Homo sapiens: one gene and its partner. The protein of the gene in region 1 interacts with the protein of each later gene in a pairwise test. Each region holds a gene or a part of one and is shown on either strand. Other genes may lie near its edges.

The links. The genes of interacting proteins can lie anywhere in the genome.
Region 2: the proteins of GNPTAB (region 1) and DSCAM interact in a two-hybrid assay, tested with the Homo sapiens proteins (one large-scale study listed by BioGRID and IntAct).

The regions. Positions count from the first base shown.
Region 1 is NC_000012.12:101,824,460-101,827,959, forward strand, and holds part of GNPTAB (N-acetylglucosamine-1-phosphotransferase subunits alpha/beta precursor), read right to left. Parts: intron 1-3,500. UniProt on the Homo sapiens protein: Catalyzes the formation of mannose 6-phosphate (M6P) markers on high mannose type oligosaccharides in the Golgi apparatus.
Region 2 is NC_000021.9:40,074,159-40,077,658, forward strand, and holds part of DSCAM (cell adhesion molecule DSCAM isoform CHD2-42 precursor), read right to left. Parts: intron 1,056-3,500; coding exon 879-1,055; intron 1-878. UniProt on the Homo sapiens protein: Cell adhesion molecule that plays a role in neuronal self-avoidance. Promotes repulsion between specific neuronal processes of either the same cell or the same subtype of cells.

The sequences.
Region 1 (3,500 bases):
TTAACCTTTTTGTTTTGTTTTGTTTGAGACAGAGCCTCACTCTGTCGCCCAAGCTGGAGTGCAGTGGCACAATCTTGGCTCACTGCAACATCTGCCTCCAGGGTTCAAGCGATTCTCCTGCCTCAGCCTACCAAGTAGCTGGGACTACAGGCATGCACCACCACGCCCAGTTAATTTTTGTATTTTTTGTAGAGACAGGGTTTCACCATGTTGGCCAGGCTGCTTTCGAACTCGCCTTGGCCTCCCAAAGTGCTGGGATTACACACATGAGCCACCACACCTGGCCTCATCCTATATTTTTCAATTATCCCAGTTAACAAACTGGTTAATAATAAACTAGTTAATAAGCTAGGTCTGAGTTGGGAGTCTGTCACTTGCAACCTAGTGCTGTTAACTAATTCTAGCTGCAATGTTAAACCACTAGTAATTCAAAAAGAAAAAGCGATCACAAACTTCTCTGACATTACCAACTTTATGCTAAAATTACTCCCACCACTTCCTAAAATAATCTTTCCTTGTCTCTCTTCTGTTTAAACTCCTACTTGTCCATGAAGCCTCCCTAAAGCTCATGCCTCCTTGAAAAGGTGTCAGAACTGCCTCGAGGATGTTTCAACCCACAACATTCTTCTGTCTTCTGACTTTCTAAGCAATTGTTGTGTACTAACTCAGGCATTCAATTGCTTATTCCCCTGTGTTGTTATTCAGTCCTCATACATACATCTTGGCCTCATCTCAACTAAACAATAGCCAAAGGCATGAGCTATAATTATTTGTATCTCTGACAGCATTTTCCACTGTATATTCTGACGACAGCATCTTCCACTGTACAGTCTAACAACAGGTCTCAGATTTTTAGAGAAAGTTACCAGAGCAGGAATGACTCTCAGAGCATGAAAATGTTCAAGTTATATCAGATCAATCACATTTGAGAAATAAAAGGGAACTATAAACGCTACATCAGAGCAAAAAATTTACCTTTACTTGAAATAAATTTGAAAGGATGTCAGTTAAGATCAACCCAATTAATCAATCCATTCATTCATGCATCCATCAAGTATTTATTCAGCATCTACTGGGTACCAATCACTTTCTAGTGGCTAAGAATACAGCAGAGAATAAGACAAGGTCCCTACTTTGATAGTTAGCTGGACTATGTACCTCTCACAAACCCCCCAAAACAAAGAGACCCTTTAAAAAGGCTCTGTGTGGCCATTGGCATCTCTAGTATAAAATCCATTACAAGTCATGCTTCTCATGTGAAGTATCCAATAAATGTATATTCACAAAACATTAAAGCTAAAATGAGGCTCTTAGAAATATAGTCTCATAGTTTGTAAACATTTTTTAAACAATGAAACCTTTCCCAGAAAACAAGTCCACACGAAATAGATAAGAGGGGCTACTCCCAACCCACAAGGCAGCTGGGAGTAACTCAGTTTGGGAACCACTGAGGATCACAATTTGTGCTGCACCTAGGAGCAGGCCAGACGGTCCCCACTCTCAGGCCAGGCCTCTTTCTAACTCATCTGTTTGTTGCCTTTGGCCAAGAACACACTCAAATATATCTGTTTAATGAGTGAACTAATCAAATACAAAAATGATAACTAATTTCTTGAAATAAGGCCAGTATAAGACACTGGTCACCACTGAGGCTGAACATAACTTGAGCTAGACCCAGTTTTCAATTCTCCTTTTCACAGAAAATAACTCATTGATTCAAAATGGCAACAGAAAAGCAGGAAAGCAAAAGGGAGCAGAGAGGTCACGGAAAAATTACCATTCATTACGAGTAGATTCTATGTGAACCTATTTTGCTTCCTTATGCAAGTTAATTCTTGGATATTTGTTTCCATACTTAGTGCACAAAGGAAGTGATACGTTATACATACACCATACCCCCACACACAGATACACATACACATATACACACTGATCTACAACCCTCTATTAGTAATCCTGAAATCCAAAATGCTCTGAATACTGGAGGGGCTTTCAACTTTTTGTTTCTAATTTTTAATTTTTTTAATTTTATTTTTCTGATTTTTAATTTTTTTTTTTTTTCAAAACAGACCAGCCCTACCTAGAGATCTTTTTGTACCTTATTTGGCAACTAAACTTGACCTGCCCTGTACTTATTTGGTGGCAAAATGACTAAACTGACTTGAGGCTAGGTATAGTCTGTATTTTCCTGAGTGTGAAGAATTGTGGACTTGTATATAAATGGTTCGATTAAATAATGATGGCCCTGAAATAATAAATTTTAACTCAAAAACACGTTTTAAAATCTATACAGTAGCAACTAACAGAGAACAAATTATTTAAAAACCAGAAGTTTCTAAGCTAAAAAGGATCTTAAGAGCAGTCAATCTAGTAACACCATTTGTGGAGCTAACTAATTTACAATAGACTGATTACCTGCTACCTACAGTCCAAGGCAATGCATTTTTGTGACCACTAGTCCCCATTCTGAAGGCTCTCCCTGTGGGAGTTGTTTTTTTTTTTTTTTTTTTTTTTTTTTTGAGACCAGGTCTACCAGGCTGGAGTGCATGGCACAATCACAGGCACTGCACCTCAAACTCCTGGGCTCAAGCAACACTCCTGCCACAGCCTCCTGCCTCCTGAGCAGCTGGGACTACAGGCATGTGCCACCACACCTAGCTAACTTTTTTTATTTATGTATTTATTTTTGAGACAAGGTTTCACTCTGTCACCCAGGCTTAAGTGCAGTGGTGCAATCACGGCTCATGCAGCCTCAACCACCAGGGCTCAAGTGATCCTCCCACCCCAGTCTCCCAAGCAACTGGGACTACTCTACTTTTTTTGCAGAGATAGGGTTTCGCCATGTTGCCCAGGCTGGTCTCAAACTCCTGAGCTCAAGCAATTCTCCTGCCTCGGCCTGCCAAAGTGCTGGGATTACAGGTGTGAGCCACCACGCCCAGCCTTTATTTTTATTTTTTTTTGTAGAGACAGGGTCTCCTTTGTTTCCCAGGCTTGTCCAACTCCTGACTTCAAGCAATCCTCCAGCCTTAGTCTCCCAAAGTCCTGGGATTACAGGCATGAGCCACCTCACCCAGCTTGTTTTGTTTGATACTTCCTTCCCTCAATTCTACTTCTCGAAGTTTGGATGAATATAGAAAAGGCTTATCAAAATACAGCATCAAATACCTGTTATATTGAGAGGAGGAGACGATAACAAATTTACAGTTAACAATGATCTTCTGAGGGCCAGGCACAGTGGCTCGCACCTATAATCCCAGCATTTTGGGAGGCCAAGGCAGGCGGATCACCTAAGGTCCAGAGTTTGAGACCAGCCTGGCCAACATGGTGAAACCCTGTCTCTACTAAAAATACAAAAACTTAGTCTAGCGTGATGGCGGGTGCCTATAATCCCAGCTACTCCGGAGGGTGGGGCAGGGAAAATTACTTGAACCTGGAAGGTGGAGGTTGCAGTGAGCTGAGATCACCCCACTGCACTCCAGCGTGGGCAAGAGTGAGACTCT
Region 2 (3,500 bases), on another chromosome or scaffold:
ATATGTTTTGAGGAGAGAGTGCTTCCAGATTTGTACTTTGAACATAACTTTGAAACACACATAGGATGCTGCATAGCAGTATCCCACACTGCACTGATATTAAAATGAAAATCCCTTGTAATACACGTTACCGAAAAAGTGGCTTAGTTAAACACCCTCACTGGTAAAGGGCAAAGGACCTGGGAACACGTCTGCACAGTTTCATATTTGAAATAACTCCCTGTCCTCACATTGCAGAGCAAGGGCAAGTAAGGGCTCTTGGCCAGAAGCTGAGAACAGCCTCATCACAGAACGACACGGGGCTGGACATTATAATCATGGTGTCTGTTCACAATGGAGCTCATCTGGCCTGGCTTCTCCAGCCTTCATTATGTTTTTGCTACATTAGAGTGAAACTCTTACACTGGGCTTCAGCTCCCGTTTCTAATTTGGGATGGCATGTGTCCTCTGCCTCACAATGCTTCACCAGTATCCTAAGCCCTCAATTTCCACTTCCAGTCAGTCAAGTAATTCTCATTCCCAGAGCAAATCTGATAGATCTTTTCATAGAAAGCCACAATTGGTGGCTTTGCTGGACCCACTGAAAATTTAAGAGACTAGAGTTAAAAAATTAATTTTCCTTGCATACCAACAGCTAGGATTTAGGGGACAGGTTGGCTTTCACCTGATTTCTGACCGAGATAGGAACATTCTTATTGCTCTTCCCTGAGGCTCTGCAGTCTCGCTGAAGGAATGTCAGAGAACCAGGCAGTGGAGGGACCTGGGTTAAAGAGGGAAGAGTCACTCCCTTTTGAGGTTTGTTCTCCAGCTGGCATCTCTCCCATTGGCTGCAGAGCAGCAGGGGACACGCGTAGGTGGACAGCTGGGCCTGGACCTACCTCGCAGCCTCTTTAGCCTCTGCTCCCGCCGCCTCCTCCGCACAACCAGCAGGAGCACAAACAGCAGCAAGACCCCCACCAGGATACAGGAGATGGTCACCAGCATCTTGAGCCCCTCGTTGGTCGTCAGCCCTTCTTCGTTTTGGACAACTGACTTAATGAGTGGAGGAATTGTACCTGAAAGCAGGGCCACGGTGTTAGATGGCTATTAATGAAGACGGCATGGCGGAGCTTTTAGGGATGACAGGTTATAAAAATCGCGCTGTGTGATCCAAGGGTGTTGGAGGTGATGAGAAATGAAAAGAACTCTGTCTCTAGGCCCTGGCTAACTTTTTTTCTTATTTATTTCCCTCCCTCTGCCTGAACTTCCAACTTATTCTATAGTGCACGTTTGAAAAGGACTTCATTTTGCAATGCACTACAGTGTGCAGGCACTTGAAAGCATGAGGCCCAGGCTTGGTGCTGACAAAAGCCACATGCATCTACCCAGAATTAAGTGTTCCCTTGACTGTCACCCACAGTACAATTGATAGAGACTATTCGAAAAAATTGCACATCAAAGAATGAACAAAAGGTTGGGCAAATGGACAGAAGCGCGTGTGCAGGGAGAGGGTCCTAGATACACTGGCATAAAGAAACTCAAATCCCTTGTGATTAGGTAATTTGCTGGCTTTTATCGCAGGTGTAAGACCAAATCTACTTCAACAGCTGTGGTTTGAGGGTACAAGAGCTACAGACAGCTTTTCAAAGGGGACCCAACTAGGTTTCTAAAGGAGCCTACTTTTGATCAGGCATGGTTAAATAGTGCTACAAAATCTAGATTATTTCGAGTAATAAGGAAACACTGAAGGAAGATGAACTCTGAGCTATCTTAAGCTGCCTTCTATCCAGATGCTCAGTACCGTGGGTGCAGAGATCTAAACACAGGCATCCACTTTTTATGAGGTATATATTTTGCTACCCTCCATTATATAAGATGCTCCACGCCACTGCACTTTCCATGTACAACAAGGGCCAGAAAGTCAGCACTTCAGGAAAAGAGAATGCAAAAATAATATAATTTCTCCCTCAGCAAAACGGTCTTTATCCTGCATTTAGTAAGCAGAGCAGGGATAATGGAATCCTCGTTCCTCTGTGATCTCTGCTAAAGCTGAGAAGAGTGTTCTCCCAACTTTAAAGTGTTTTTGTGGAAGCCCAAGTCTCCAAATGCTTAGAAATTCAGGAAAGAGGCACTTACAGGATGCCCATGAAGAGGGGTCTGCAAAACCAAGACAACACTAGGTCAAGCAGAAACATTCGGCTAAGGAAATGGCAGAAGAAAGAGTGAGATCATTAAATGGAGGACTCTGAAACCTGAGTGGTATGAATGTAGGCTGCCAATCTTGGCTTTCTCAAGATAACAAAGTTCTTCAGGCAGATGTGACAATAGAGGCTATCCATTCATGAGACTGGTCCAAAGAAATCTGTAATCTCTCTCAAGGAAAATATAAATATGCAGCCATATTTCTTAGTGTAATAAAGTGATTTCATATTTCCAAAACGTAAAGGTAGCTTGCAGCATTTTTCAAAATTTGGGATCTTGGATAAAGTGAGAAAATTATATCTTTTCTTAGAAGACAAACATTTAAAATCCGCAGAACACTTTGTGAATTAGAATCACAGTTTCAAATTCTACACATGAGTAGTTTCTAATTAAATCATTAGCTGTGAGCATATCATCAGTGTGCACATTTAAGCTGGGTGCCCAGGCATCTGCACATATTATAGAGAAGCTGGGAACCAGAGTGTGAATATTGCAAGATAATGATCTAAAGTAAAAAAGATACTTACTACTCAAATGTGTGCTGGTTAACAGAGGATTTTGGTGCACCCTTAAATGCTAAGTAAAGTGTCTGGTAAGTGTCAAAGTTCTTTATTTTGTAAGATCAAATAATTCAACCATATTACAGGGAGAGGCCAGCTTGGAAGTGCTCCTCTGCCTCTGGGTGATGCTTTGTGATGGGGACACCTTTGAATGAAGTCACTGAAGAGTGAGGGCTATAAAATTAGAAAGAGGCAGCCCATGAAAAGCATCAGCCCTTGAAGAGAAAAGTTGTCGTCTGGGAGGGCATAGGCTATTCTGGGGCCATAGGACAGAGCCCGTGCAGAGGCCAGGGACCCCGGCTAGCGTAACCAACACTAGAAGAGCTTTCTACAAGCTCAAGGTCTTCCTACAGCCCTGAGACCCAGGCCAGAAGTGCCAGGAAGACCCTGGACTCTGGCAGAGAAGGATGTTGTGGAAAAATGACCTTGGACAGGAGATTTGGGGTAGGTCTGCTCTGTGTGCCAAAGCAAGAAGAGCCAGCCCTGGGCCATCCGGACATTATAGGAGAAATTGGTCCGATGAAAATCCCAGGCAATGTCACCTCATTAGCTCCTGGTGGTCATTTCTGTGGGTCCTTAGGTTCACAGCCACTCTTCTTAGGATGGCATAAACTGTGCTCCAAGGAGCTACCTGCTGGAGCTTTAATAAAGCGGCCTCCCAAATGCACAAAGTAAAGAAAGAATCACTCTCCTAGAGAGCAATGCTGATGCTTTTCATGGGCTGCCTCTGTCTAATTTTACAGCCCTCAGTTATGAGTG